Linked DNA regions of Homo sapiens. The protein of the gene in region 1 purifies or fractionates together with the protein of each later gene. This does not show direct contact. Each region holds a gene or a part of one and is shown in the gene's direction. Other genes may lie near its edges.

What was found.
Region 2: the proteins of IFT122 (region 1) and SDF4 purify together in Homo sapiens (affinity purification with mass spectrometry, with the first as the bait; one large-scale study listed by BioGRID). This does not show direct contact.
Region 3: the proteins of IFT122 (region 1) and PFKP purify together in Homo sapiens (affinity purification with mass spectrometry; one large-scale study listed by BioGRID and IntAct). This does not show direct contact.
Region 4: the proteins of IFT122 (region 1) and NUDCD3 purify together in Homo sapiens (affinity purification with a luminescence readout; one large-scale study listed by IntAct). This does not show direct contact.

What each region holds. Positions count from the first base shown.
Region 1 is NC_000003.12:129,514,978-129,522,957, forward strand, and holds the end of IFT122 (intraflagellar transport protein 122 homolog), read left to right. Parts: intron 1-510; coding exon 511-622; intron 623-2,491; coding exon 2,492-2,617; intron 2,618-4,129; coding exon 4,130-4,209; intron 4,210-4,590; coding exon 4,591-4,755; intron 4,756-5,198; coding exon 5,199-5,288; 3' UTR 5,289-5,530; downstream 5,531-7,980. UniProt on the Homo sapiens protein: As a component of the IFT complex A (IFT-A), a complex required for retrograde ciliary transport and entry into cilia of G protein-coupled receptors (GPCRs), it is required in ciliogenesis and ciliary protein trafficking.
Region 2 is NC_000001.11:1,215,701-1,222,966, reverse strand, and holds the end of SDF4 (45 kDa calcium-binding protein isoform 2 precursor), read left to right. Parts: intron 1-2,236; coding exon of another isoform or gene 2,237-2,268; exon of another isoform or gene 2,269-4,033; intron 4,034-4,039; coding exon 4,040-4,198; intron 4,199-4,333; coding exon 4,334-4,509; intron 4,510-5,162; coding exon of another isoform or gene 5,163-5,278; coding exon 5,279-5,455; 3' UTR 5,456-6,036; downstream 6,037-7,266. UniProt on the Homo sapiens protein: May regulate calcium-dependent activities in the endoplasmic reticulum lumen or post-ER compartment. Isoform 5 may be involved in the exocytosis of zymogens by pancreatic acini.
Region 3 is NC_000010.11:3,097,568-3,105,547, forward strand, and holds part of PFKP (ATP-dependent 6-phosphofructokinase, platelet type), read left to right. Parts: intron 1-1,707; coding exon 1,708-1,785; intron 1,786-3,353; coding exon of another isoform or gene 3,354-3,433; intron 3,434-3,797; coding exon 3,798-3,987; intron 3,988-6,211; coding exon 6,212-6,377; intron 6,378-7,041; exon of another isoform or gene 7,042-7,547; coding exon 7,548-7,592; intron 7,593-7,825; coding exon 7,826-7,934; intron 7,935-7,980. UniProt on the Homo sapiens protein: Catalyzes the phosphorylation of D-fructose 6-phosphate to fructose 1,6-bisphosphate by ATP, the first committing step of glycolysis.
Region 4 is NC_000007.14:44,481,256-44,489,235, reverse strand, and holds part of NUDCD3 (nudC domain-containing protein 3), read left to right. Parts: intron 1-3,951; coding exon 3,952-4,268; intron 4,269-7,980.

The sequences.
Region 1 (7,980 bases):
CCAGCCAGCTTCCTTCTTTCACACATCCTCCCTCAAGCTCAGAGCAAGGACTTGGTTCAGACAGACCTGGGTTCACATCCCGGCTCCACCCTCTCCTAGCTCTGTCTCCATCTTTCTGCACCTTGGGTTCCCCCTTTCCCACAGGTAGTTGTGAGGCTAAATGAGCCAGTATAGTCCACGTGCTCCGCACGGTGCCCGGAGCATGGTAAATGGCTGGCTAATGGTGGCAGCGGCCACTGTCATTCCTGCCAGGGGAAAAGTGCCGTTGAGCGCTGCCTGTGCAGGTGTCTTGGGCACGGGGACCCAAGTGACAGGGCTTGGGTATTTCGGCAGGCCTTTATCCTGCTTCCCCATGGCATGGAGCTCCTGGGCCCGGCGCCCCTTCCCTGCCTGCCCACCCGGGTGGCCTTTCCTCTTGGCAGCCAGGCCCCAGGGGCCTGAAGCCAGAGTCCAGGGGGAGGAGGACACGTGCCTGCCCCGGCCCCTCGGGAGTCCGTGGCTGTTTTGTAGGAGTTGGTGCCCTTGTGCTACCGCTGCTCCACCAACAACCCGCTGCTCAACAACCTGGGCAACGTCTGCATCAACTGCCGCCAGCCCTTCATCTTCTCCGCCTCTTCCTACGGTGAGTCCCTGCATCCTGAGCATGTGGGTGGGACAGCCTGTGGACAGCCAGGCTCACTCCACTGCTCTCTGGCCTCAGGACGTTGGGCAAGGGCCAAAGGCCTCTGAATGTCCCTGTTTATGAAATGAGGACACTCTGACGCCCACCTACCTGACACAAGGAGTCACTGTCGGTGTTCCCAGAGATAGGACCCACTGCTGCCCAAAGCTGAAGCACCCACTCTGGGAACCTGGCGCAGGGCTTTACATAACCAAATGCCCCAGAAAGAGAGTCCGATGGCTTTGCATTCAGACCAGGAGGCTGAGATAGGTTATCAAGGCCCAGCTCCTTTGATGTTGACAGAGGATCAGAAGCCCCTTCCCAGGAGCTGAGCAGAGGCCACACACACACACAGACACACACGCACACACAGACTGCCCCTGCACACACACACATACAGAAACTGCCCCTGCACACACACACACAGACTGTCCCTGAACACACACACAGACTGCTCCTGCACACACACACACAGACTGCCCCTGCACACACAGAGACTGCCCCTGCACACACACACAGAGACCGCCCCTGCACACACACACACAGAAACCGCCCCTGCACACACACGGAGACTGCCTCTGCACACACACACAGACTGCCCCTGCGTGCACACACAGACTGCCCCTACACACACACAGATTGCTCCTGCACACACACACACACACACACAGAGACTGCCCCTGCACACACACAGAGACTGCCCCTGCACACACACACAGAGACTGCCCCTGCACACACACACAGAGACTGCTCCTGCACACACATACAGAGACTGCCCCTGCACACACACACAGACTGCCCCTGCCCACACACACAGAGACCGCCCCTGCACACACACATGGAGACTGCCCCTGCACACACACATGGAGACTGCCCCTGCGTGCACACACAGAGACTGCCCCTGCACACACACAGATTGCTCCTGCACACACACACACACAGAGAGACTGCCCCTGCACACACACAGAGACTGCCCCTGCACACACACACACACACGGAGACTGCCCCTACACACACACACAGAAACTGCCCCTGCACACACACAGATTGCTCCTGCACACACACACACACACACACACACACACACAGAGAGACTGCCCCTGCACACACACACACAGACTGCCCCTGCACACAGACACACAGAGACCGCTCCTGCACACACACAGAGACTGCCCCTGCACACACACACAGAGACTGCCCCTGCACACACACACACACAGAGGCTGCCCCTGCACACACACAGACCGCTCCTGCACACAGACACACAGAGACCGCTCCTGCACACACACGGAGACTGCCCCTGCACACACACAGAGACTGCCCCTACACACACACACACAGACTGCCCCTGCACACACACACACACAGAAACTGCCCCTGCACACACACAGATTGCTCCTGCACACACACACACACACACACAGACTGCCCCTGCACACACACACAGAGACTGCCCCTGCACACAGACACACAGAGACCGCTCCTGCACACACACATGGAGACTGCCCCTGCACACACACGGAGACTGCCTCTGCACACACACAGAGACTGCCCCTACACACACACACAGACTGCCCCTGCACACACACACACACAGAAACTGCCCCTGCACACACACACATTGCTCCTGCACACACACACACACACACACACACACACACACAGAGACTGCTCCTGCACACACATACAGAGACTGCCCCTGCTGCCTCTTCTTGCTTTTGGTGAAGCTGCCAGTGGGTTGAGAAGCAACTCTGTGGTCACCCCACCTGCCTGGCGGCAAGTCCTTTGCAAGGCCTCCAGCCCCCTCAGCCCTTTCTCTATGCCCTCCAGACGTGCTACACCTGGTTGAGTTCTACCTGGAGGAAGGGATCACTGATGAAGAAGCCATCTCCCTCATCGACCTGGAGGTGCTGAGACCCAAGCGGGATGACAGACAGCTAGAGATTGCAAACAACAGTATCCATGCCCTTGGCCAGAGCCTGTGTGTGCGGCTGTGTGAGGGGTCTGGGGACAGGCGGGAAGTAGGAGGGCCCAGTCCCAGGGGATCGCGGGCCATGCTGAGCCTGGCCCTGTGTTCCCAGAGAGATTGGAGAGGCCCACATGGGACAGGGACAGGGATCAGAGATGGGCAGACAGCTGGCCAGGGCCTAAGGACCCAGAAGTGGCAAGTGGCACCTTGGTCTTCCCGTGTGGGTCTCCCACCCTCCCCTGACCCCTAAAAGGCACTGGCTGTGCCTCTGTCTGTGCATAGCTCCTGCATAGCCAACATGGGACATGATGTCATGATGTCGGTGTTGGCCCCCAGCTCTTCCACTCAAGTCACTTTCGCATGCAAGTGACAGAGTCCAAAACTGACAAGCTGAACAAGCAAAGGGTGTGCAAGGAAGCCCCAAGCAGGAGAGGAAGCTTCCTGGCCCAGCGCTCAGTCTGGTCGGTCACAGGCTGGCTCTGCCTCTCTTGGCCGCACTGTCCTCTGGGCAACTTCATTCTTTGGCAGCCCCGTGGTGCCCCCATAACACAGAGATGTCAGGAGCAGTGCCAGCCCCACATCCCCTCAGCCTTATAGCCCCCAGAAACAGCCAGCTTTCCTCTCAGCTGTGGCAGTGAAAGCCCCGGGGCACAGCTCAGCCTGCCCCTTGGCCAGGAGGATGCACCAGGGCAGTTGTCCAGGGCAGGCCACACTTGCAGGCTGGACATGGGAGGGGCTTCTGGCAGGGAACAGCACACACGTGGCCTGAGGCCTCGCTCCCTTGCACTGACTGAGTCTGCAGGCCTGGGGGCTGTAAGCCTGCCTTCCTTGCAGCTCCCAGGTGCTGCCACCCCCAGGGGCCACACTGGGAGGAGGGAAGCTCAGAGAGCTGCTTGCTGAAGGAAAGACGGACCCATCTCTGCCACCCAGGCTCCCTCAGGTGCCACAGATGATATGTGCTATGGTGCTGGCAGGTGGGTGCTGTGCCCACTCCAACTTGGTACCAGCAGTCCCCATGTCCTGGGCCTCCCTGCAGGACCCCTGCTGGCCTCTGTTACCAGCCCCACCACTGTGGGAGAGGGGCGGTTTCCAGGGACCTCCAGGTGAGTCTGACCCGCCCTGGGGTCAGCAGGGACTCTCGCCCCTGTCTGCTCCATCACAAGTGCCCGCAGACCCCCAGCAGCCACTGAATGTTTCTCCAGGATCCCTGGGCCCATCCCCTCCGTGCCTACCCGCAGTGGCTCACAGGGCCCGCATGTGCTTCCCACTGGCCCTGGGAGCTATGGTGTGTGTGGCCTGCGAGGGGAATGGGTGAGGGCAGCAGGGCCAGCAGAGTCCCTTCCTTCTGATTCCTTGGCCTGAGCCCCCTCTGTTCCTCCACCTGGAAAACTCTTCCACTGGTCTGGCTGCCCTTGAGTCTTCTCACAGGGGTGTAGGGTGGAGGCTAGGGTCTGTCTCCATCTCTGCTTCTGATTCCATCCTTGACCAGATCCCTCCAGGCTCCCAGATTCTGCGGCTAGTGGAGACCAAGGACTCCATCGGAGATGAGGACCCGTTCACAGCTAAGCTGAGCTTTGAGGTGAGGGTGCCTCTCTGGGTGACCTGCAGGAGGGCAGCCTCCATCCCTTCTCCTGTGCACATGGGGACCCTCAGCTAGCGCAGTGGTGGAGGAGGATTGGCCAGAACTTCCAGATGTGGTGGCACGAAGGAGGGGCAGGACCCCTTCCTGTGGGGTGTGGGAGCCATGGCTGCCCCCGAGGGACCATGGCCAAGGGCGCAGGTCTGTGGACAGGGAGGCAGCTTCAGCTCTGGTGGGAGGAGCTTGCCACTGTTAGGGTCACCTGGGTTTAGGAAGCAGGTCCTCTCTCACCACTGCCAAAGATTCCAGGATCATAATCCACACAGATGTCTCACTGTGGCTGAGTGAGGACACTGTGCCTCCTTCCCGCCCACCCTGCAGCAAGGTGGCTCAGAGTTCGTGCCAGTGGTGGTGAGCCGGCTGGTGCTGCGCTCCATGAGCCGCCGGGATGTCCTCATCAAGCGATGGCCCCCACCCCTGAGGTGGCAATACTTCCGCTCACTGCTGCCTGACGCCTCCATTACCATGTGCCCCTCCTGCTTCCAGGTAGGTGGCCACCCTGGTAGCTCACATGTGCTTCTCTTGGCCACTTTTCCCTTGCCCAAATGTCCCTCTGGGAGGCGTGGCCCCTGGGAGGAGGGGCACATCCATGGCTCCAAGTTGGGACAGAGGCTTGTCTGTCCTCTCCCCTGCTTGCATTCCATGTGCATCTAAAGTGGACTTCACTGGCCCCTGCGCTGTCCACATCCTCCCCAAATCCTGGGGGCCCAGCAAGCGTGATGTGCCCTTGACCTTCACTCAGAAAACAAGAAACCCCACAGCCCCCTCCCATCTCCCCTTCCAGCCCTCAAACAAAGGTGCTGCAGGTCTGTGTCCAGCCCTGACCACTGCCAAGCCCCCTCCCCTTGAGAGGCAGTGCGTCCTGGCCCCAGGCGTAGGGCTGATGAGCACTAGGGCTTCAGCCTGGTCTTACAGCTGTCTTCCCTTAGATGTTCCATTCTGAGGACTATGAGTTGCTGGTGCTTCAGCATGGCTGCTGCCCCTACTGCCGCAGGTGCAAGGATGACCCTGGCCCATGACCAGCATCCTGGGGACGGCCTGCACCCTCTGCCCGCCTTGGGGTCTGCTGGGCTGTGAAGGAGAATAAAGAGTTAAACTGTCAGAATGTGTTTCTTGCCCAGATGAAGTTTGTGTTTTGTGGGGGGGGCCTTGTGTAACCACGGAATTCCTATTTATGGCATTTCATGCCTTGTAAATAGCACCAGGAGATGAGGAAGAGAATGTACATATATTTTCTAAGGAAAAAAATCTGTTACTTTCAGAACGGCTCCGAGTTGTTCGTGGCAGCCTGCTGGAGTCCGCCGATCTGTCAGACCGTTAGCATGTACATTTTGCCAACAGATTGCCTCAATAATGACAAAAGGGCTCCTTATTTTCATCAGCATCTACATTTTAGCAAATCATCTTATTGTCTGCAACTTAATTTCCGTATGCAAAAGTGCACCTGTTTCTAATTTGAAAGGAACATTACATTTGTGTGCTCTTAACATTTAATCAAAATGGCAATATAGAAAGGGGTGGGGGAGCAGGGGGTTTTTTTGTTTATTTATTTTGATTTAATGGGGATCCATCTTGACAAGAGAAAATACGTGGGTCCAAAGAAGATGGCAGGAGTTTAAAAAAAGGCTCCTGTTTGGTAGCCCAGTCAAGGCTCCTGTCCAGGCTCTGGAGCCGCCCTCTTCCATCCACCTTCCCCAGCCCCACAGAGCAGCCCCAGCCCAATGGAGACTCTTCCCTTTGGAACAGCTCCTTAAGCAGGGGGTTTCCGTTTGAGATTCCAGACTGCCAAGGTCTGTTCCCTCAGGCATCACTGGTGTCCAGTCCAACAGCTTGAGGGCATGGAAGGAACAGCACACAGAAGCTAAGGAGAACTCACATGTATGGGGGACGTTTTTGGCACCAGCCACGTTCCATGCTGTCTCAGGCCTCTCAGCAGCCCTGTGAAGGAAGAGTTATGATTTCCAGTGGGGCTGGGAAGGGGGTTGCCAGGGCCCAGGGGCTGCCTCCAGCCCTGGGAGGGGCGGCCCATGATGTGTCCAGCCCCAAGGCCCTGCCCCTTTCACCCCCAGTCCACCTGCCAGAGGTGGCAATGCAGCACTTCATGAAAAGCCCAAGAACAGCTGGCACAGGCAGGAGAGAGGGTGTGGGCTGTCATGCCATGCCGAAACGCACCCTCCCCTCGTGCTGCAGTATTGATTCCTTACAACCTACCTGTGCAGGGGTCAGGGCAGGGCAAATATGCCCACTGGAGGGACGCAGACACTGAGACCCCAAGGAGAGTGGCTGCAGAGGCCCCCAGTGGGAAGTGTCGGAGCTAGAGCCCCATCCCAGAGCCCTTGCCCCACCCCAGACCGCCCCTCCTCCCTGCCTCCCTCCGCATCTCTCTGGAGATGATGGAGGAAAATAAAGAAAGGGAGCCAGACAGTTGTGCCAACAGAACTCCTCCGTCGAGTGTCTAATTACTTACCATCATGCATGCGCTCTCTCACTAAACATTTATTAATGTGTTAGGATTTCCATTAGCGCATGACTTCAACTGAAATCATTTGCATATGGCTGGGAAAAAGGGGAGAGGGAGAAAACAGCTCCAGCTACCCAGCAGTCAATCACAGTGACAGATCAGATGGTCCCTGGCTGGAGGCAGGGGAGGGTTCCAGCCGAGACTCCAGCATGCATCCCCTCAGCCGAAGAACACAAAAATGAGTGTGCTGTGCCGGGCTCTGCTGCCCCAGGAAGCTCAGCTCTAGAGGCCTGAGTAGGACCCCTATTCATTCAGATGCACTTTCCGTGCATCATCCAAGGCTGCCTATTACACAGGTGATGACACTGAGCCTCAGTCATGTTATTTTTCATTCAGCAAATATGCATTAAGCCAAGGCATATTTGGTCGCACCTGGGTGCAACCTTTGTGCATAAGCCCTGTGTCTGGCTGCTTTTCTCTCTCAGCCTGATCTGGGTCTGAACCAAGTCCAGTCTTTTCTCCAAGGCTGTTTCCCCATCTGCACAAAAGGGCCCCCTCCAGCTCTGACTCTGAGGTTCCAGCCTCAGTCTGCGTCTGTGAACAGCGCTGGATGATGATCCTGTTGACCCCTCAAGTGCCTGTGACAAGGAAGGCACCACAGGGACCTGGTGATGCCCATTGAACTAAGAGGACACTGAGGCCAGAGAGGAGCAGCTGCTGAAGGCTGCACGGTGGGGCAGTGATTCTGGCCTTTAGCCTGTAGTCCCAACTACTCAGGAGGCTGAGGTGGAAGGATCAATTGAGCCAAGGACAGGAATTCAAGGCTGCAGTAAGCTATGATTGCACCACTGCACTCCAGCCTGGGCAACAGAGCAACATTCATCTCTAAACAACATTTAAAAATTGTTTTAAGAAGACAAATGAGATAACTGTTGATCGTAATGGCTGTGTAAAAACTGAACATGGCTGGGTGTGGTCGCTCACACCTGTAATCTCAGCACTTTGGGAGGCCAAGGCAGGAGGATCGCTTGAGCCGGGAGTTAGAGACCAGCTCAGACAATATAGGGAGACCCCATCTGACTGGGACTGGTCCTGATCTCTCATCTCCAAGTGCTCAACATTGTGCCCATGTTCTTGGAAGGAGGAAGTAAGGGAGAGGTAGACTGAGCAGCCTCAGGTGGACCTGACTGGAGACGCACCTCAGGCAGCTGGAGGTCCCCGGGCCTTGGTTTCCCATCTGTCCCCAGCAA
Region 2 (7,266 bases), on another chromosome or scaffold:
GCGTGTCGTGTGTACGAGTGCGCTGTGCGTGTGCTTGTGAGTACATCCAGGTAGCTGTTCATGTAGGCTCGTGAGTACATGCAGGTGAGTGCGCCCTCACACCCGCTGTGTGCACACGTGTTCGTCTTAACAGCATGGCCCAACCTGGTTGGTGGTGGCTGTCAGGAGGGAAGTGGGTGAAGCCGTTGCTGACCTAGGCGCCGCCCAGGAGTCCGGTGGGGAGCGTGTGAGCTGTGCCTGGGCAGCTTTCAGCTCTGCTGGTCACGGCACCTTCACGGCCGTTACTCAGTTAGGTCCTGCAGAGAATCTGAGGCTGTGAGTCTGGGTTGGGGCCTGCCCCGTACTCTGAAGGCCACGTGAGGCAGAGTTTCCTGGGGAGAGGGCACAGCCTGTGCCTGAGGGCCTGGCCCTGAGGCCTGGGTCTGCTGGAGACATCTGTGTGGCCGTCAGGTGGTCACCAGAGAGCGGTCAGGTCCCAGGGAGAGGCTCTTCCTTGGGTCTGGGGTGTGGCCGTTGGCCAGCAGGGCAGCCTCAGCCCTGGGCGGGTCCAAGCTGGTGCCTCTGCGTGAAGAGGGTGGGGCCGGGTGGGGCCCGGCACCCGGGCTAAGGCCAGGTGAGGGGAGAGCCGGGCCACCCTGCACGGGGCCAGGTCTGGGAGAGCCGTCCAGGCAGAAGCCCCTGCTGGCCCAGTTGTGAGGCACAGCTGAGCGGGTACCGTGGCGTTGCTGCCACCCTGGGGCTCCGTGTGCCCTTCCCGGTCATGCCCGTGGTCTGGTTTGGGGCTTTGAGGAGAACGTGCAGAGTCGCCTGCTCCGTCGCTGCCCGGCATCCTGGGGTGGGTTCTCTGCTGCCCTGCAGGGCGCCCGTGTCGCCCACGGGACTGGTCACGTGATACGGGGCTGCTCCTGGCAGGCTGGGTGTATCTTACACCTTTATTTTTTGTGCCTGCTTAACTTATCAGTAACACACATTTCCTCACCAGAGTCTCAAGGCAAACCACCTCTTCTTTCTTTTTTCATGAGACGGTCTCACTCTGCTACCCAGCCTGCAGTGCAGTGGTGCAGTCTCGGCTCCCTGCAGCTGTACCTTCCAGGGCTCAGGCGATCCTCCTACCTCAGAAGCTGGGACCACAGGCACCATCACCGCGCCTGGCTAATTTTTGTATTTTTTGTACGGATAGATTCTGCCGTGTTGGCCGGGTTGGTCTCAAACTCTTGGACTTAAGTCATCCGCCTACTGCAGTCTCCCAAAGTGCTGGGATTATAGGCGTGAGCCACTGCGCCTAGTCTTAGCCTCTTTCTTTTTTTAATTTTTAATTTTTAATTGTTTAAGAGTGAGGGCCTCACTGTTGCCCAGGCTGGAGTGCAGTGGTGCGATCTCAGCTCACCTGTAGCCTCCACATCCTGGGCTCAATCTATCCTCCTTGGAGGACAGAAAAATAAAGGTGTAAGATACGTTCCTGCCAGGAACGGCCCATATCATGTGACCAGCCCCCATGGGGGCGGCCTCCTGAGTGACTGGGACCACCAGTGTGTGCCACCATGCCCAGCTGATTCAAAAACATATATTTTGTAGACACAAGGTCTCCCCATGTTGCCTAGGTAGGTCTCAAACTCTTGGATTTCAGAGGGTTCAAGTGACCCGCTCGGCCTCCCCCCGTCCTGGGGTTGCAGGCGCGAGTGACCCGCCTGCCTTGGCCTCTCCCCATCCTGGGGTTGCAGGCATGAGCCCCTGTGCCTGGCCTTGACCTTCTAGAATGACGCGGAGACTTTTGAGCCTGTTGGCTCTGCCTGCTCTTTTCCCAGTTCACGTACTCTTATCTGGAGTTTGGTCCTGTCCGTTCTAAATCCTGCAAATTGGACATTAAAAAAACTAAAAGTAAGAGGATCTCCCTGTGTTGCCCAGGCTGGTCTCAAAGTCCTGGGCTAAAGGGATCTGCCTGCCGCAGCCTCCCAGCATGCCGGGATTACAGGCACAAGCCCCAGTGCCCGGCCAAATTGGACGTTATTACTTCCTTTCCAAAAGAGTGGTTTACATTTTCCTCCCCACACACGGTTCGTGCCTCCACCCCGGTCCCGCGTTCCCTGCTGTCCTGACTGCGTCTTTAAGCTTCATCCCGTTGGTCCGGCCTGTTGGCGATGTGCTTGGGGCAGGAGGCCTTGCCCGTGCCCGCCCCCCAACTCTGATTGTGTCTGTCTTTCCTTGGTGCCACTTTATTTGGGTCTTTTCTGCCCAGGACATGGCCCACCTGGACCTAGAGCTCTGTGACATTTCTGTGAAGCCTCCGTCTACCTTTGGGACTCAGCAGAGGTGTGTTTAGAATTCACTCTGCGTTTTGGGGGTCCCCATGCATGCTGAGGTGCTGTTCCCTGCCCACCCGTGTCCGATCCGTCTTGGCCTCCCCGACCTCAGGGTGCCTAGGACCCCCCGACCTCTTTGGGTATTTGGTTTCTGGCTCAGGAAGAGCAGCTGCCGGGTCCTGGAGGAGGGGCCTGGGAAGCGCTGGCAGGCGTCACTCCTGCGACCTCCCACCCCTCCCTGCATGGCTCCTGCGAGGGTCACCGCGTGAGTCCGGGGGCTGCTGTCCTCGCGCCTCAGACCTGATTCTGGGGACCGCGGTGAAGGCGTGGCAGGCGGGCATCACTCCCTTCCCCCGCCTCCATCGCTGCCTCTCTCTGGGTCTGCGTCCTCTTCTCACAGGGACAGCAGTCGTTGACTCTCCCTGATCCAGGAGGGTCTCTCCAGATCCTTCCCTAACAGCAGAGGCCCGGCTCGTGGGGAGGGACTGGGACTCAAGGCTTCTTCACCAGCCTGAGGTTGGTGCTGGGGCTCGGCGGCGGCTGTGAGAATCCTGTGCTGGAGAAAGCGTCTCTCGGCCGGCCTGTCTGGGGCGTCTGTGCCTCTCCTGGATGGGTCTCAGTTTGGCCCCGTCCATCCATCCCAGGAGCTGCGGTGGAGCAGACAGGGAGGGGTGCCCCAGGAACCACAGCCCCGTCACTCCTGTCTTCCTTTAAGTGAACCGGTCGTGTAGATGGAGGTTGTTCAGAAAGGGATAAGATGGGACGGCAGCTGGGCCTCATCCCGCAGTGAGCGCGACGCAGAGGCTGCCGGGCTTGTGGCAGGGGCTTCGGCCAGGGCAGAGTCGGGCCTCACGTGCAGGGGGCTGAGTGTGGGCCTCAACACTGGACTTGGCCACTGACTGCAGTGAGCCCCAAGATGGGGCAGGAGGTGGTGTTTCTGTCCTGGAGACCCAGGGTGGCTTGGGTCCTTGGGATGTGTGGGGACCTCGGGGTGAGGGCCCGTTGGGGCCGGGTGGGCACGGCAGGAGAGCGGGGGCCACACACCCAGAGGCAGTGCCGTGTCCCGGCTGGGAGGGTTCCTGGGAAGCTCTGCTCAGCCCCAGTCTCAGTCATTTCTAGAAACTGTGTTTTCCTCCCTGTGACGTCACACGTGAAGGAAACGGAAAAGGGCAGTGAGTCCTTCGCCCCGCGGCGCCGTGCGCACGTCAGCCTTCAGGGTGATTCCGCTCCTCCAGAGGGGCAGGCGCGGGTGTGGGGGGTGGGGCCCAGGCCCATCCTGAGGGGTCCCAGGCATGAGGGGCTCTGAGCTGTGTCCTGGGGTGGTCTGGGCCATGGGGAGGTTCTGGATCATGTCTTGAGAGGTCTGGGCTGTGTGGGGGGTCCAGGCCATGTCCTGGGGGTCTGGGCTGTGTCTGTGGGGAGTCAGGGCCATCCATGTATTGGGGGTCTGGGGCAGGGGGGGGTCCAGGCTGTCTTGGGGAGTCCGGGCTGTGTGGAGGGGTCCAAGCTATGCCTTTGGGGATCAGGCCTGTGGGAGGCTCTGGGTTATGTCTTGGCGGGGGTCCAGGCTGTGTCTTAGGGGCTGGGCCATGTTCTGGGGACGTGTGAATCCTGGAGGGTGGGGCCCCGGTCTCGCGGGTGGCTGTGTCCCTCGAGTTCAGGCAGCACCTCTCGGAACTTTCTGGATTTGCGTGCTGGCGTCTGTCGGCCTCGATACCCACAGGCTGCGCCCCTCTCAGCACAGGAAGTCCTGGAGAACCTGAAGGACCGCTGGTACCAGGCGGACAGCCCCCCTGCAGACCTGCTGCTGACGGAGGAGGAGTTCCTGTCGTTCCTCCACCCCGAGCACAGCCGGGGAATGCTCAGGTTCATGGTGAAGGAGATCGTCCGGGACCTGGGTGAGGCTGGGTCCAGCCTGGCCGGCACGCCAGGACCCAGGACCGACTGGCAGGGGCCGGGCATCGTCGGGAGGTCGGGGCAGGTCCTGCGGGAGCCCCAGCCTGGGTGTGGGCTGACCCATTCCCGTCTCGCAGACCAGGACGGTGACAAGCAGCTCTCTGTGCCCGAGTTCATCTCCCTGCCCGTGGGCACCGTGGAGAACCAGCAGGGCCAGGACATTGACGACAACTGGGTGAAAGACAGAAAAAAGGAGTTTGAGGAGCTCATTGACTCCAACCACGACGGCATCGTGACCGCCGAGGAGCTGGAGGTGAGCCCTGGCGCAGCCGTGTCCCGGAGCCGGCCCTGCGAGGTGCTGTGGCGGGAGGGGCTGGTGGATCTGGGCCTGAGGCAGGAAGCTGTGCTGGTGTCTGGCCTGAGACTCCATCTGGGCTGGTCACTGGGGCGTTTGCTCAGCGGTGTCCACCAGGCTGCATGGCCGTTGTTGGCGTTTAGGTTCAGACGGATCAGAGACAGGCGAGCCTGGCCGGGCTCCATCCTCAGCCCCTTGCGGAGGCGTCAGGGTTCTCACAGCCCCTTTTTAACGGGACCACAAGGGGAAGCTCATGCTGGGCCCAGCATGGAGGCAGGTCCAAGGCCCAGCAGGTGCAGGTGGGCGGGGCGGCCTGTGCCACATGGCTGGAATTTACCACCTTCCTCTGAAGCGTTTTCACTGGTATCATGTGTAGGCTTGTTTTTCTCCCACTGCTGAGTGAGTCATCTTGTTTTTATGTAGAATCCTGTGATTCCTGGCGACAGCCAGTGGGCCCGGCCCAGGTTAGGGATCCTTCAGAACTGGGGTCCAGGCCTGTGTAGCCCCTGTGCCCCGTTACCCCTGCTGGCCCCGGGCAGGCCTTCCGGGGCCCCCGGCTTCTCCCTGCCCTGTGTTTTCATTTGTGCCGCCTCCCTTCGGGAACCTTCCAGAACGTGCCCACACTCCCGCTGCAGCCAATAGGCACCTTAAATAGCCACTTCGTGCGGCTGGCCGCGGAGCTCGGAGGGGGAAAGGCGACGCTGACCTGTGCCCCGCTCGCCCGCAGAGCTACATGGACCCCATGAACGAGTACAACGCGCTGAACGAGGCCAAGCAGATGATCGCCGTCGCCGACGAGAACCAGAACCACCACCTGGAGCCCGAGGAGGTGCTCAAGTACAGCGAGTTCTTCACGGGCAGCAAGCTGGTGGACTACGCGCGCAGCGTGCACGAGGAGTTTTGAGCGCCCGGCCGCGCCCCGCGCCGCCCCCCACGCACCACCGGGGCGGCCTCGCGGGTGACTCCGGGCTCCGTGGCTGTCCCGGACCCCACCTCTTCCCTGCCGCCCGCCACCGGCCGACCGACCGCGGCTGCCCCAGTTGATGAGCGGCGTGTCCCCTCTGCAGCGCGCACCCCGGCGGGGCTTTGGCTGTGACGCGGTCGGGGCGCGGGGCTGGGCTGTGGCCCCGCGGCGCCGCCTCCTCCCTGGTCCCTCGAAATCGTGGCATCTCACTTCTGAGAACGAAATCTCGCTTCAGTCACTCTGCCGAAGGCGCTGACGGCATCGCGGCCGGAACCTCTGGGCCCGGCCCCTCCCAGGGCCGCCGCTCCGTGGGAAAAAACAGCTCCTCCATTTCCTTGAAAACTGAACGATTATTAAAAATAGATTAAACTTCGCTGGAAATGAGTAGCCAGGAAGTTCAGGGGAGGGTGCCGGGTCCTTCCCGGGCCTGGCGTGTCGGAGCCACCCAGGTCCCGCAGCTGCCGCTGAGAAAATGCAAATATTTGTTGTGACAAGAATCACATACATTTACTTTAAATATAGTTGCCTTTTTTGGTCAGCTTCATTCTTTGGGCGTGAAACAAAACACAACAGCAGCGTGCTAGGTTTGTGGTTACAGTTTCCACTGGAGCGCTGGAGGCTGGTGCTGGGTCACGTGGAGGGTTGGAGGTCATGGCCGGTTCGAGGTGATTCTCCTGGCAGGTGGCAACGGGCAGGGGCTCTGGGAGGACGGAGGGCAGCGCTGCGTTTGTGAGTAGGGGTCAGGGGGCAGCAGACGTGCCCACTGAGTTTGGGGTTTGGACATTTAAGGCAGGAGACAGAGCCGCCTGGGGGTTTTGGGTGGAGGATGGCAAGGTCTTTGGGTGCAGTGGGGCAGGCCTAGCCCCAGATGGGGCAGAGAATGGGGTGTGTTAGGACGGCTGGTGGGGGTCCTGCTCTGTGGCGTGTGGGGGCCCAGGCTGTGTCCTGGCTCTCCCAGTGGGAGCTCAGGGAAGCCGGGAGTGTGTCCTCTTCAGTCTGCCCTGTGGTGCCCATGTGACCGGCCTCTGCCCTGAGCCCACCTGCCCAGGGGCCCCTGTGGGGCCGAGAGGGCGGGTTGGCACCTGGGCTGGTTCCCAGGCAAACGAGATTCACAGAGCCACGGCCAGCGCAGGTGGTGGGAGGATGGTCCCACGCCCTGCTCTAAGGGGCTGTAATTCCCTGGAGCCAACCTTCGGTGGCCTGGACTCTGTCTTTCCCCATCCGTGGCCCCAGGCCACAGCCAGGGACCATCATAGCTGCAGCAGCATTCGACGCCCTGTGCTGAGGGCCGTGCACCCAGAGGTGGGAGGTGTGAGCTGAGGCCATGCTGTGCTGGACATGAAGGCGGGGGGACAGCTGGGTATGTGGTGGCACCTGGCCCTTCAGAGGCCCCAGCCAGCTCCAGTCTGGTACTGGAGGAGCAGTGGCCACTCATGGGCTGCCCTGTGCCGCCCGCGACACTACTGTGTGGAGCGGGGAGCCCAGCTCCTGGGGATGTGGTTCGAGCTGCAGGCTGCCTTACAGACCTTGGGGGTCCTGAGCTCTGGGTCAGTGTCCAGCCTCCTGTGGCCACGCCACACCCGGTTCCATGGACACAGCAGGGCTTTCTTGGACCTGTGACCTTAAGCCCAGGACAAGGAGACCTGAGCTTCCTGGGCAGCTTCAAGCAGGAGGGGCCGTGCCCCATCCTGGGGCCATTGCAGTTGCCAGCAATATGCTGGGGGTGCCCTCTCCATGGTGCACGGGCCCCA
Region 3 (7,980 bases), on another chromosome or scaffold:
AGCCAGGGCCTGGGTGCCTGGGGGGTCTCGGGAGGTGCAGACGGGGCTGCCAGCGCTGAAATGAACCAGCTCTGTTTTGGGTTCTGTTCCATTCCAGACTGTTTTCTCCTTTCTTGTTTATTACATGTATGACACTAAATTATAAACACACATGTGGCCAGGCATGGTGGCTCACGCCTGTAATCCCAGCACTTTGGGAGGCCCAGGCAGGCAGATCACTTGAGGTCAAGAGTTGGAAACCAGCCTGGCCAACATGGTGAAACCCTGTCACTACTTTAAAACAAAAACAAAATTAGCCAGATGTGGTAGTGTGTTCCTGTAATCCCAAGTACTCTGGAGGCTGAGGCAGGAGAATTGCTTGAACCTGGGAGATGTAAGTTGCAGTGAGCCGAGATCGTGCCACTGCACTCCAGCCTGGGCAACAGAGCAAGACTCTGTCTCAAAAATAAAATAAAATAAACACACATATATATATAATATTTCTGGTAGAAATTTATAAATATAAGTATACAAATTGGCCAGCTATCAAGGTGCCTGCACTATTGATTAATTTATATATAGAACTCCATAATCTATGAGTCATTTCAATTTTAAAAACCTTTCTTTTTTCTGTCCTCCGGACCTTCACTAAGGTGGGCTTATGGATCCAACAATAATCTATCATGAACTTTTCTAAATCCTTAATAGTTATTCCTTCTTAAGATTAAATGCTGTGGAAAGTGAGTTATGTAGATGAAGTTACCCGTGGGCATTGCTGCATTTCCTGATCTTGTATATTCCGTGGAGAAAAAGATGGGGATGCATTTAGCATTGAAAGGTAATTGTTGGCCAGGCGCGGTGGCTCACGCCTGTAATTCCAGCACTTTGGGAGGCTGAGGCAGGCGGATCATGAGGTCAGGAGTTTGAGACCAGCATGGCCAACAAGGTGAAGCCCCGTCTCTACTAAAAGCTACAAAAATTAGCCAGGTGCAGTGGCAGGCACCTGTAATCCCAGCTGCTCAGGAGGCTGAGGCAGGAGAATCACTTCAACCCGGGAGGCAGGTTGCAGTGAGCCGAGATCGCGCCACTGCACTCCAGCCTGGGTGACAGAGTGAGACTCCGTCTCAAAAAAAAAAAAAAAAAAGGTAATTGTCCTTGGGCTTCTTCTATCAATGTGTCCTCACATATTGATATCTGATTCCCTAATGCAGCACCGTGTCATTAATGGAGGGTAAGGCAGACAATTATTATTCAGCTGTGCTGTTTAATAATATTCAACATACATCCCAAGTGGCGCAGGGTGCCTTGGCAGGCGGAGCCCCTGACAAAATGCTCCCATGTATGTCCCGTGCTCGACAGTGCTGTGTGCCTGTGAGTTTGTGCTGAAGTATGATAAACACGTTGGGTGAAAGTGACCCCTTTCAACCTCTAGCGAAACACGACCCTTTCAACCTCTCGGGAAACGCTGGGCCATAGGAGAATGGCTTGATTCCTCATTGCACTGTGAGGCTGAGTCTAGGCAGACGTTCCCATTACTAGGGACTCAAGGTGAGGACTTTCCCACAATTCACTGCTTTTATCCAGTGCTGGAACTGCCCTGTCTTCTGACCAGTGGATGCTGAGGAACTGACATTCACTGTCATTTTTCCCGTTTTATATAATTTAAGGATCACTTCCCATTTAGTGAAGTTTATCTCATTTTTAAAAGATTCTCCCTTTCTCCCCTAGGGCTACCAGGGCATGGTGGACGGAGGCTCAAACATCGCAGAGGCCGACTGGGAGAGTGTCTCCAGCATCCTGCAAGTGGTAGGTACTGGGCTGCGTCCACAGGGTTCTCTGAGTTAGAGACTCTTTTATGTCTAGTAAATTCCCAGAACACTTGAGCTCAGATCAGTTGCGAAATAGAGATTATGTGGACAGAACAGACTTTGTGAGCAGCTCTTTACTTGTGGTTTGATTTTTAGAAATGCATGTGTTAATCTGTGAGTCACTTTGAGTACTTGTTAATAGAAATAATCCAAATCGGTGCCTCCCCGCTGAAGACGCTCATGGGGCCCACACCTTCGTGCTGGTCCAGGCTCTCTCTGCATTGGGCGCCTCCTGAGCTCCGACACATCAGAAGAGAGGTGGAGGGAATTTTGACAACCACGGAAGTTAGGTGGAGCAACGTTTGCAAAACATCAGGAGAGTGTGGGCTGAATTCACACAGGGGAGCGTTTCCATTCTGCGGTCGTGATTGACGGAGGAAGATAAGATGTGAACGGAGAGTTGAAGTGCGTATGTGTATCAGTGAGTCTGTGTTTCTGTGTGTGGTGTATGTGGTGTGTGAATCTCGGTGTGTGTGTAACTGTGTGAGTCTGGTGTGTGTCTGTATGTAGGTGTGTGAGTCTGAGTGTGTATGTGTGGTGTGCCCGTGTGTATGTGTTAACTGTGTGAATTTCTGGCTAGCGAATGTGTATCTGTGTGTGGGGTGTGTGTATATGTGGTGTCCTTGTATGTGTAGGTGTGTGGTGTGTGTGTGTGTGTGTGTGTGTGTGTGAAAGAGAGTGAGTGAGAGAATGGGAATGGCACCCACTCCTCTGCAGCCCAGTTATCCTGGTTTCGTTCCTGAGTTGCGGCCACCTCGTCTCTTTGGTTGGAGTTTCTGGGTTGCTGGCTCTAGCTCCCATTGTGCTGGCTCTCGTGCTGCCCCCCAGGTTTTTGTCCAGGCAGAGTCCAGAGAGCACCCCTGCCCTGCTCTGCGCCCCCACCCTCACTTGCCTTGGGGGTTGGGTTGTAAATGGTCTCGGTCACACTTGGTGCCAGTGACGTAGGATCGTGTGGAGTGAATTTCAGTTTTTGTAACCTTTTCATAATGTTTTGATAAATTAAATGGTGGTAGGTTTCATGTAAAAATAGGAGCTTTTCTGGGATTTGGAATATTAGTGAGTCTCTGTGTGTGAAAATGAGCTGTGTGCGTGCACCATTGGTGTATCGAAACACGCACTCACGTCACTGCAGGGGTCTCCTGGGAGCTGCCTGCAGACCGAAGGCAGGGAGAGCTTCGCCTCCAGTGCAGAGACAACCCCTGCTGTGCTTATGAGCACCTTGCTTGACAAAGTCAGCACGCGCTTAGGGATCCCGTACGGATGGAGTTTTTTGGTGCATTCATGGTTTTATTTAAAGAAATCTTGCATTTGTGGATCCCACCAACAATTCTTAGTTTTTGGAAAACCAAGTGTGACGAATCATGATCTATGTCCCCTGGAAGTTTGGATGAAAGAATTTAAGATCCTGAAGATATAGCTCTTTAAAAGGGGCAGCGAGTATGTGGTGCAAAAAAAAAAAAAAAAAAAATCCCCCTGGCCCCAGGTTCCTGCTGGTTTTACTTGCAGGTGCTGTAAGGGGTGACTGGAGGGAGAAGCCTGGCTGCTGGTCACACCGCTTCCCTTGTCCTGGCCGGCATGCTCTGGTGGTCAGTGGGCTTGTCTTTGGTTCCACGTGCACCTGGTTGAGCTCGTTGGCCGGTGCTGAGGCGGCTGCTGTGACACCGCAGGCTGGTTCCTGCTCCATGTATTTAACTGCTGGCTGCCGTGTGTCTGGCTCTGCACCCTCCCTGGCTCCTCCTGGGTGTCACGCGCCTGTCTTTGTCCATGGAATGCTGGTCTGGGACTAAAAACAGGAAAATCACAGTCTTTCATAGCTAGTTACTAACTCACAAGATGAAAATGAGAAAAATGTAAATTCTAGCACCCCATGTTTATAGTCGGCCTGTGTGTGCCATCCACCTGGCGCTCTCTCAGACTGAGAGGAGATAAATTAGCTGGTGTCTTTCCCAGGGCGGGACGATCATTGGCAGTGCGCGGTGCCAGGCCTTCCGCACGCGGGAAGGCCGCCTGAAGGCTGCTTGCAACCTGCTGCAGCGCGGCATCACCAACCTGTGTGTGATCGGCGGGGACGGGAGCCTCACCGGGGCCAACCTCTTCCGGAAGGAGTGGAGTGGGCTGCTGGAGGAGCTGGCCAGGAACGGTGAGTGGACACCTGCTCCTCTGTCCTGCGGGTTTTCGCCCTGTTTCAGAGCTTTGGAACCGACAGGTTTCCCTCTTCACTGTGGCAGAAGTACCTCTTCTCACAGATCTTACAGGTCACCATCTCAGGACTTTTTAGGATCTCAAAAAACAACAGCAATGATCGTAAGAATGCTAGTAATTTAACCTTACCATGTGCCAGGCACCCTTCGACCTTTCACACAGATAGCTTTATGGAATCCTCACGACAGCCATCTAAGCCAGGTTTTAGATCATCCCATTTACAGATGAGGAATCAAACGGCCACTCAGCCGTGGGGCGAGCCGGGTCCCCAGCAGCCTGGGACACTAGCATCCGCCTTTCAGCCCTCACACTGTGTCCCTCCAGCTCGCTGGGGTCCTTTAAAACTGAAGTTGGGCCGGGCGCGGTGGCTCACGCCTGTAATCCCAGCACTTTGGGAGGCCGAGGCGGGCGGATCACGAGGTCAGGAGATCGAGACCATCCCGGCTAAAACGGTGAAACCCCGTCTCTACTAAAAATACAAAAAATTAGCCGGGCGTAGTGGCGGGCGCCTGTAGTCCCAGCTACTTGGGAGGCTGAGGCAGGAGAATGGCGTGAACCCGGGAGGCGGAGCTTGCAGTGAGCCGAGGTCCCGCCACTGCACTCCAGCCTGGGCGACAGAGCGAGACTCTGTCTCAAAAAAAAAAAAAAAAAAAAAAACTGAAGTTGCCACAGGACTTTAATTTATTTAGACGATAAATCTCTGCCAATACATCATCCAGTACCAACTTTGGCACTACTTAGGAAAGCGTTTCTGAGAGCCCTGTGTGTATGTGGTTTATTTTTGTTTTGTTTGATTGTTTGATTTTGTTTGTTTTGAGACAGAGTCTTTCTCCATTGCCCAGGCTGGAGTGCAGTGGCACGATCTCGGCTCACTGCAACATCTGCCTCCTGGGTTCAAGCAATTCTCCTGCCTCAGCCTCCCAAGCAGCTGGGATTACAGGCATGCGCCACCACACCCAGCTTTTTTAAAATTTTTTTATTTATTTTTTATTTTTAGTAGAGATAGGGTTTCGCCATGTTGGCCAGGCTGGTCTCGAACTCCTGACCTCAGGTCATCCACCCGCTTCGGCCTCCCAAAGTGTAGTTTTTCTCCCTTGAAGCGGTTATGTAATTTCAGTGCAATATTAAATATGACCAGGGAAGCATATTGTTTAACAGCAACTCGATGAGAGGCGGCATTGAGGCAAAGCAGCTGTCCCCAGGTTTGTGAACATCCTCGTAGGGGATGGAGAAGGCTGCCCGTTGGAAGCAGCCAGGCCTCACGGTTCCCGCTTGTCCACCTCATCCCGTCTGGCACAGCACAGTGAGTGCACAGACCGGGACAGTGGCCACAAGTCCGGGCCCAAGCTTGCCCCTGGCCCTTCAGTGGTTCCGATTCCCTTTATGCAGAACTGCCCAGCCCAGGTCTGTCCTGAGTGCGAGGCAGATGCTCACCCACGATCCAGCTTCCCACAGATGCATGAGAAATCAGTGTGAAGATGGCCTAGTGTCTTAGATTCTTAATTCCGTAATTGTAACGTATCCTGTTCAAAGCCGTGTCATTCTCTGAAGCTGTTGCCAGGAAGTACTGAGATGTTTGTTTACCGATTGCAAATGTGGATCCTTTCTTTTATTTTTCTAATCCACTGCTCTTGTCTAAGTGCCAGGTGACAGAGTCCATTGTGTGTAACTGCTGCCAGCTTTGTCTGGCTTCTCTTTCCTTAACTATGCAGAATCCGGTTGCCTTGAGTTCGGAGAAAATAAAGAATCGGCCAGGGCAGTGGCTCACACCTATAATCCCAGCACTTTGGAAGGCCAAGGCAGAAGGACCACTTGAGCCCAGGAATTTAAGACCCGCCTGGGCAACATAGAGTGTGGGTCTACAAAAAAAATTAAGAAATCAGCCAGGCATAGTTCTAGCTTCTCAGGAGACTGAGGCAGAAGGATCGCCTGAGCCCAGGAGTTCAAGGCTGCAGTGGGCTATGATGGTGCCACTGCACTCCAGCCTGGTCAACAGTGAGACCCTGTCTCAGAAAAATGATAATAAAGAAATGATACCAATAACAAAGAGTTTAGAATGGTTGATTTCTCTACCCATGGCCATTCTGCCTCACCCCTAGTGGGGCACCCCCCGAACGCGCCATGGTTACGGCGATGAGACGTGCTGTTTGCTCCCCGCGCAGGCCAGATCGATAAGGAGGCCGTGCAGAAGTACGCCTACCTCAACGTGGTGGGCATGGTGGGCTCCATCGACAATGATTTCTGCGGCACCGACATGACCATCGGCACGGACTCCGCCCTGCACAGGATCATCGAGGTCGTCGACGCCATCATGACCACGGCCCAGAGGTAAAGCGCTCAGAGGAACCGGCGGGAGGCCAGTGGGGCCCGACGTGTGCCCAGCTCAGACGTTACCACGGGCTCTAGAACATTCTGCAGATTGGGTGTCCTGGTGCTGGTCTCGTAACTTGACTTTTAGGAGCTATTGCCAGAACATTGTTCTCTGGTCTACTTTTCATTTTTAATTTTAAAACATTCCTTGTTTTTAACCTGATGATAGAAAACAGTTTATTAGAATTTGGAAGGAAGAAACAAAGTAATTATCCTCTAAATGTCCTACCCAAACATCTCCAGAAGGAGTGGCAAGCAGGAAACTGTTGTGTGGATTTTCCACACTACTCATTAGAAACGCAGCCAGCGATGTCCTGCCCTGTGTAACCTACGGATTCACGAAGTGTCGTGGGGGCCACAGCGTTTGATCCGAGGTGCTCTAGGCTCAGCAGGTTATCACTAAAGACTGTGGGGCGCACCGTACAATTTCTGAAGCAATTTGCATGAAAACCATGTGGAATGGTAAATAGAATAAGTGTCTCCCCTTTAAGGACGAGGTGCTCGAGACTGGGAGAGTGCCCGAATCCAGTCCCCAGCATGGCGCCTCCCAGTCCTCTGTGTGCGTGTCCTGTTCCCAGTGACGCCTCACTGGACATTCTCAGTGCGTGGGCGTGAACCCCACAGTTGGTGGAAAATCACCGAGTTGGAAGGCTGCTCGGAGCAGTTGGATTTTTCCATTCCCTGGGAAGACCCACAGTCTCTGGGCATTAAGCACTTAGTGAGTCTGGCACTCACTTGTTTCCGTGGGAGAGATCCAGCCGTGGCTGTCGACAGCAGCTGCCGACTGTGCCCAATAGAGAAGGTATCTGGGAAAGAGCCCAGCACGGGGCCGGGGAGTGTGAGTGTGTCCTGGCACAGGCAGGCAGAAGGTGTCCAACGTGCAACTGGAGAGCGCAGAGGTGGCTCAAGTCCCCTTCCTCGCAGGAGTCTGGAAGGCTACTGCATAGCGTTTGCCTTAGTAGAAAATGGACCATTTTTGAAGCCTAGGTCCCTGCAGGCCTCCTGGCTAACTCGGCTGTCAAAGCCCCTTTTCTCTGCTTTCTGAGCTGTTTCCAGGACTGAGTGGGTGCTCCCTCTGTTTCTCTGCTTTCTGAGCTGTGTCCGGGGCTCCCTCTGTTTCTCTTCCAGCCACCAGAGGACCTTCGTTCTGGAGGTGATGGGACGACACTGTGGGTACGTACCTGCGGTGGGTCCGGTGGACGCGGTTCAGGTGGGGGACCCTCAGCATCATCTCCCTGAGGCTGCACCCCACATCCTGAATGCTCCCGTGGAAAGTCCTGAAGGGGCCGGCATCCCGCTTCATACCTGGCGTTAGGTCTGCACGTCTGTCGCTGAGCGGGGTGCCTGGGCTGCCCTCGTGGGAAGGATCCTTCTGGGGTGTTGATGCTGTTGCCTTGTCCACATAGGTACCTGGCCCTGGTGAGTGCCTTGGCCTGCGGTGCGGACTGGGTGTTCCTTCCAGAATCTCCACCAGAGGAAGGCTGGGAGGAGCAGATGTGTGTCAAACTCTCGGAGGTAATGCGGGTCCCGTGGCCGTTGATAGCGGGCGATGCTGGCTGCA
Region 4 (7,980 bases), on another chromosome or scaffold:
GGCAGGTTAATGAAGTCTTGCCATTTGATCTTCAGTGTCTCTGTGAAACAGATAAGTTTCAAGTTTACGTACCAATTCAGCAAGGTTAAGTGATTTGACCAAGAACACACAGCCAGTTCACCGTAGAGCTGAAACTAAAAATTTCATTTTGTGGATTCCAAATCTTCCTGTTCTGTTGTTTAACCATTCCATAGTAGGATGAGAACACTTTTGTCTAGATTGATTGTAGTTTGCAGAAAGATGTGGAGGAGAAAGGAGTATATACTGAGTAATATGTATAGTATCAGATGTTTTATATTCTGGGGTCGTTATCTTATTTAACCCTTAATATAACCTGAGAGGTTGGTCTTTGTTTCACAGATGAACTGACAGAGCACTCATTAACCTGGTAACTCATTTACCTGGTAACACCTCTTACAAGACACTTCCATAGGTTAGGATTTGGTGACCAGTCTAATGAAGTAGTGGAGATGGGGAGCAGGGATGGAGGAAGGGGAGGGATGGGTCAAAGATGATCCAAGGTTTCAACTTGGGTGACTGGAATAGTGATAATGCGTTAACTGAACTGTCACCTGGGTTTAGGGGAAAAAGTTCAGTTTTAGACAGGTTGAACTTGAAGTTGCAGGTAGGAGTCCCTGCCCATAGGCTATTGGAATTACTGGACTAGATCTTTTGGGAGCTAGAGCAACTGGAGTGGTCCGAGGGAGAGAGAAGAGCCAAAGGTGAAGAACAGGCCTTGGGGAATAATCTTGGTGGAGAGCAATAAGTTTCACAGAAACCAAGGGGACAACAGTCTCCAGCAGATGCTTAAGAGAGGTGTCATGTTTTCTGGAAGTGGTTCTCAACCATCAGCATCGCTTAAGGAACTTTTTTCTTTCTTTTTTTTTTTTTTTTTTTCCTGGAGATGGAGTCTCACTCTGTCGCCCAGGCTGGAGTGCAGTGGCATGATCTCAGCTCACTGCAACCTCCGCCTCCTGGGTTCAAGCAATTCTCCTGCCTCAGCCTCTCGAGTAGCTGGGACTGCAGGTGTGCGCCACCACGCCCGGCTGATTTTTGTATTTTTAGTAGAGATGGGGTTTCATCATGTTGGCGAGACTGGTCTCAAACTCCTGACCTTGTGTTCTGCCTGCCTCGGCCTCCTAAAGTGCTAGGATTACAGGTGTGAGCCACTGCGCCTGGCCAAGGAACTTTTAAAAGCACATATTCCTGGATATTTTGGTTGGGTAGATCAGGGTGAATCCTGGGAACCTGTTCTTTTTTTTATTTTTTTATTTTTTATTTTTGAGATGGAGTCTCATTCTGTTGTCCAGGCTGGAGTGCAGTGGCGCAATCTTGGCTCACTGCACCTCCTCCTCCCAGGTTCAAGTGATTCTCCTGCCTCAGCCTCCCGAGTAGCTGGGTTTACAGGCATGTACCACCATGCCTAGAGAATTTTTGTATTTTTAGTAGTAGAAATGGGGTTTCACCGTGTTGGCCAGGCTGGTCTTGAACTCCTGACCTCAGGTGATCACCCGCCTCAGCCTCCCAAAGTGCTGGGATTACAGACATGAGCTACTGCACCTGGCTGGAACCTGTTCTTTTATCCACAAAAGCTCATTTGACAGGAGGTTTGTAAAGGTGATTTCAGTATTGACAAGGGTTTTATTGTGGGGTGGGACAACACTGAATGAGACTGAGTGACTTGGTACCAGCATAACATTATTTCTTCGTGGTAGTAGGTGATCTCCTGACCTCCCCACTCCTACTCATCTGCCTCTTAGGGTTTTTTTTTTTTTCTGTCCCTAACTTGATGGCATAAGACTCCTTCCTGGGGTCTGCCTCTCCACCCCCACCAGATGTGGGATGCTTGGTGTCTCTGCTGAATATAGGCAGAGAAGAATTTGGATGGGAGTGCTGGGCTGCATCATTGTGGAACTTCAAAGCGTTCCCTTAATATTTTGGGGAGTACAGTGTTGGTGTAGAGTTAGGCAGCTCATACGTTTCCTTTTAAAAGTTTGCATAGCCTGGATACACAGCTTGAAGAACCTCAGCAGGAATGATGTATGTGAAAATTGCATTCCATTTTATAATACATTAGTATGTTTTAAGACAAAAATCGTTTAGACTGACAAGCCATTCATTATAATCGATAATGCTGTTTTTTTTGGAGTCCACTTTGAGAAGTGCTCCTTTGTAGAAGTCCTTGAAACTAGAATCAGGAAAGCTAGCTACATCCTGTTCCTTACATAAATTGTTGAGAAATCTTGGGAGAGTCACTTCACCTCTTGTCAGCTGAGAAGATTGATTGGAGGTTACAGATTAGAGTTCTCTTCCAGCCCTATGTTCTGTGACTCTAGAATGAGTACTGAGAACATGTGATAGTTGGGAGGTTGGCAGTGGTAGCACTTCCTGGTGGTGTGAATGGGTAGGTCAGAGAAGGCTGGATGTACTGAGTGAGCAGAGGCAGCTGCATGGTGAGGACTATCAAGTCTGGGGGTTCTGTGTTCGAAGTCTCAGGTGTTAGGAGAGAGAGATCTTGTTGCTTTGCTTTTGTGGAGTTAAGATGAAGATCTGGAGTATCAGCAGGATGAGCAACTCTGAAAGCATGGACTCAAAGCGGTAGAGACCCTAATGTTAGAATGAAGTCAGGGCTTCAGGTTATCTGCAGAAGTAAAAATGGTTCTGGTGTTGTTTCCAGTTTTTAACCTTTTAGGATTTTATTGATTTTTTTTTTTCCCCTCTGCCTACATCATCATCTCCCCACACTGTTTGGTGTGTGCTGCGTAGTTTTTTACTTCTTTTGCCAGCAGGAGCTGGGGCAAGTTACGTAACCTTTCCAAGCCTTATTTTTTTCTCATTTTTGAAATGTTGATGCTGTCTTCTTCACAGTATTTTTGTGAGGGTTTTGAGAGAATGTTTGTAAAATAATTTGACACAGTTAGTCTGTTAGCACCCTTTTGACTGCCCGCGCAGTGCACAGAACATTGTTATTTAATACCTGTCCGCATTCTAGCCCTTTGGAATCTGACTCCCACCCATGTCCCAGGTTGCTGTCTCAGCCTTTCCTTCCTCCAGTTATTGCAAGAGCTTTTGCCCTTCCTTGACAAGCCTATTCTTAGAGCTGTGGCATTTCCTCCAGTGGTTCCCTGTGGAAGATGTGCCTCTCATTCAGGGTCTAACTGGGATCCTCCTTGTTCCAAGAAGTCTCCCTAGATTTCTTTCGCCAGACATGCTCATTCCCACCCATACCCTGACAGGGAATTGAGGGCCTTGTCATGCCCCCTCTTGTATCAGAGTTTTCATGTGTGGGTATGTCTTGACTGTACTTTTTTGGTAGAGAGGTCCCAGCACCTTCATGGGTGTGACTGTTTCCCAGAAAATGTTAAGAACTTGTTTACACACCAGAATTTTGAGTTCTTAGGAGGCAGCAGAAATCATTTTGATGTTTTTTGTGCGTGCGTGTTTCTTGCACACTGTAGGCGCATAGTAGATGTTTGTTGAATTGAATGTCCATGCAGTGTGGTGAAAAACAGCAGCAGTCCTGTAAACCTGGTTCCATTTTGGGAATTGAAGTTCAGCCATATTTTCATGTTTCATTTGTGAGTCTGAATTTTGGTGCCTTTATAACCCACAGTTGTACCAGGACCGTGTATTCTTTGCATTGTGAACAAGACTGGGGTCTGTAAAATAATGACAACAAAGACCATCTAACTGTACATCTTTTAGGTATGTAAATATTGTTAGCCTTGGCTTATAAGTTTCTGATTTTGTTGATTTTGGAATCCTCCTGTTAAACACTGTTTACCTGTCAGCTTTTGGTGAAGTGGCAGTGCATTTCCATTTTGCCAGTGGGAAAACTTGTCAGTTTCTGACTTTTAGTTCTCTCCTTCACAGATTTTACGACATTTCTACAAGATATGTGGTACAGTATTGGGCAGATGAACTGATTGCTGGATTGGTGTTTGATTTTAGGTATTCAAAACCTTTGACCACATGGCCCGTCAGGATGATGAGAAGAGAAGGCAGGAACTTGAAGAGAAAATCAGAAGAAAGGAAGAGGAAGAGGCCAAGACTGTGTCAGCTGCTGCAGCTGAGAAGGAGCCAGTCCCAGTTCCAGTCCAGGAAATAGAGATTGACTCCACCACAGAATTGGATGGGCATCAGGAAGTAGAGAAAGTGCAGCCTCCAGGCCCTGTGAAGGAAATGGCCCATGGTTCACAGGAGGCAGAAGCTCCAGGAGCAGTTGCTGGTGCTGCTGAAGTCCCTAGGGAACCACCAATTCTTCCCAGGTGGGAATTTCTACTTTGCAGCTTCCTTCTTTCTTGCGTAACATCTGGTGTTTGGGTTTCTCCATAATTTATTCTTACTTTGTAACACATTAATTCTTGATCTCAGTATTTATTTAGCTCTTCATGTTTGTAAACTGCTGCATTACAGTCTTTCAGTTATGTAGGATGGGAGGTCAGTTGGCTTAAGGTCAGTTCCCTCATTTGGTAAGGTCAGTAGTCATACAACCATTTGAGATCCAGAGCCAAAATTAGAGCACTTGACTCCTCTCACAAAGACCTAACTTTATCTGTGTTTAGAGGCTTAGCCTCAGCAGCTCGATTGTTTGTGTTTTTCTCTCTGCAGGAGCACTGCTAGGATTTGCTCATGATGCCTGAGGTATAATGGACACCTGAAATGACAGTCTGTTTTAGGTGACTGGATTCACATCCTCGCTATGCCGCTTCCTGAATGTATTACCTTGAACAAGCAGTATAACCTTTCTGTGTCTCAGTTTTCTTCTCTATAAAATGTAGGTGATAATAATAGTACCTGTCTCATAGAGCTGTTGTGAATTTTAAATGAGCCGATAGTCAAGCAGCTAATGAGCAGTAGAGCTTGAATATGACATGAGGTTTCCCTGAATCAAGCCTCTTGCTTTATGTACTTGTACTCACTTTTTAGGAGTTATGTTTTGTGGGTGCTCTAAACTTAGTTATACAGTCCTTCCTTACAGTCTGAGTGAGAGGAGCTGATCCCTTCTTGTGTGGGAGTTGTAGTAGTGTCTGCAAGACAGCCACGAGCCTCCTGGCCTGCTTTGTTTTTTTGGAAAATTCACTCTCTTCCCTCCTTGATAGGATGGGTCACCTGTGTGCCCCCAAATCCCTGCCACCTTGAGTTCTCTTCTGTTTTTCTCACTCCTTTACTCTCTTTCTGACGTGTTTTGGGGGAGATTGTGTGTGTGCGTGCACACTTTTTAATAGAGACCGGATCTTACTCTGTTGGCCAGGCTGGAGTGCAGTGGTGTGATCATAGCGCAATATATGAATTGAACTCTTGGGCTCCAGCAATCCTCTCGCCTCAGCCTCCTGAGTAGCTGGGACCATAGGCATGCACCACCACATCTGGTTAATTTTGTAATTTTTTGTAGAGATGTCTGCCACTATACCTGGCTAAATTTTAAAAATATTTTCTTGCTGTATTGCCTAGGCTGTGGGGGAGTTTTTGTTTTTTTTTCTAGTTAATGAAGCAAAGTGAACAACTTGGAATGGCTTATAAAATATGGAGTAAGAGAAAATAAGTTTTGTAAAGACAGGAGGGGCAAGATTGCAGAGTCTTAAAGTCCAGGCTAACTAATGGAGTTCGAAGAAAACAATTGTTTGATGGCAGAACCAAGCTGATGGAGAAGGGGAGCAGCTCTTGAATATGGAGCTCTGGATGAGAAGGGGTGAAATAAGGATTTAGAGATTGGAAGTGGGGAGTATAGGGTGGAAGGCAGACATCTGATATTTCCTTGCAGATCTTTTTAAAATATTTTTTATAGTGCAGATCTGCTGATAGTGAATTCTTTCAGCTTTTTTGTCTGAAAATGCCTTTATTTCATCTTCCATTTCTGAGGATATTTTTGCTGGATATAGAATTGCAGGTTGACACTTTTTTTTTGTTTTTGTTTTTCTTCAAACATTTTAAAGACTATCATTCCATTGTCTTCTAGCTTGCACTGTCTCTGATGAGAAGTGAGTAGACATTCTTTGTTCCCCTGTGTGTGAAATATCCCCATTCTCTTGTTATATCAGTTCCTTGAAGTTATTATCATTAGTTTGAGCAATTTGATTAAGATTTACTCATGCATGATAGTCCTTGTGTTTATACTATTGGGAGACTTTTGAGCACACACACACATACACACACACACACACACACTTAGGAGGTCTGTTTTCTCTTTGTCCTTCCTTTGGAATATTTTCTGTTGACCTGTCTTCAACTTTACTGTCTTTTCTCCTTTGGTGTCTAATCTGTAGTTAAACTCATCTAGTAACTTCTTAATTTCAGATAGTTTATTTTTTAGCCCTGCAGGTTCCCCTTGATTGTTTTTTATGGCTTCAATTTCTACCTTGGTTTTCCTTTAAATCCTTCAATATACTTACAATAGTTTAAAGTCTTTATCTGCTAATTCCATTATCTCTGTGATTTCTTGGTTTGTTTCTAGGGATTGAGTTTTCTCCTGATTTTGGGTTACATTTTCTTTTTCTTTCAAATGTCTGATAATTTTTTATTGGATGCTAGACATTAATGGATGTTATGCTGTCGAGTCTCTGGGTTTTGATTTCTTCTGTTGAGTGTTGAGTTTTGTTCTTGCAGGCAATTAATTTATTTGCTGATCAGAATGATCTTTTTGAAGCTTGTTTTTTATTTGTATTGATTGATCAATTGATTGTAGAGATGGAGTCTTAATATGTTACCCAGGCTAATCTCGAACTCCTGGTCCCAAATGATCTTCCCACCTTTGCTTACCAAAGTGCTGGGATTATAGGTGTGCACCAATGTGTCTGGCCTTGTTTTTCAGCTTTGTTAAGCTGTATCTAGGGTACTTTTATTTTAAAGCTAGCTTAGTCTTCTAAGACATGCCTTTTTGGGGCTTCTGAGTGCTCCAGCTGTTAGTGAGGTCTTTCCATTCTGACTGGTTGAGGCTTGAACGTCTCCCAGCTCTAGGGATTGTCCATGTCAGTTACCCAGGTTTCCTACTTGTCTCATGGAGTTGCACTTTACACATGTGCAGTTTTGTATTCAGCCAAAGACTCAAGGGGATCCTATGAGGTTTTTTGGAGTTCTTTCTATGCGCAGCCTCCTTACTAGTAGTCTTTCTGTAAAATAATCAGATGTAAGAATGAAGATTTAATATACAAAGTTGTTTGTCATAGTCCACTTAGGCTGCTATAACAAAATAATATAGCCTGGGTGGCTTATAGACTACATAAATTTATTGCTCACAGTTCTGGATACTGGAAGTCTAAGGTCAAGGTACTGGCAGATTCAGTGTCTGGTGAGGGCCCACATTCTGATTCGTAGTTACCTTGCTGTGTCCTCAAATGGTGGAAGAGGTGAGAGAACTCTCTCAAATCTTTTATGAGGGCACTAATTCCAGTCATGAAGGCAGAGCCCTGATCACCTCCCAAAGTACTCATCCCAATATCTTGGGATTAAGATTTACCGTAGGAATTTTGGGACACAAACATTCAGTCTATAGCATTGTTCACTTCAGTTCTATTTATTCCAACATTACTTATATTAGCAAAATTTTGGAAGAATGCTGAATTTCTGTAGTAAGGGAATGGAGAAATACATTTATAAAATGCTTTTAAAGACTACTGACATGGTTATTGTGATGGTCAGTTTCATTTGTCAGTTTGGCTAAGTTACAGTCCTGGTTATTCAGTCAAACACTCATCTTGGCATGGCTGTCAAGGTATTTTGTGGATGTGATGCAAGTTAATAATTGGTTGACTTTAAGTAAGGGTGATTGTCCTAGGTGATCTGAGTGGGCCTGATCTATCAGCTGAAAGCCTGAAGAGCGCAGCAGAGCTCCCCTGAAGTAGAAGAAATTTCTCCGATGGACAGCAGCTGCACTCAGTTTCTGGAGAGTTCCACATTGGCCTGCTATGTGGATTTCAGACTGGCCTAGCCAGCCCCCACAATCATGTAAGCCAATTTCTTGCAGTAACTCTCTTAATAAAT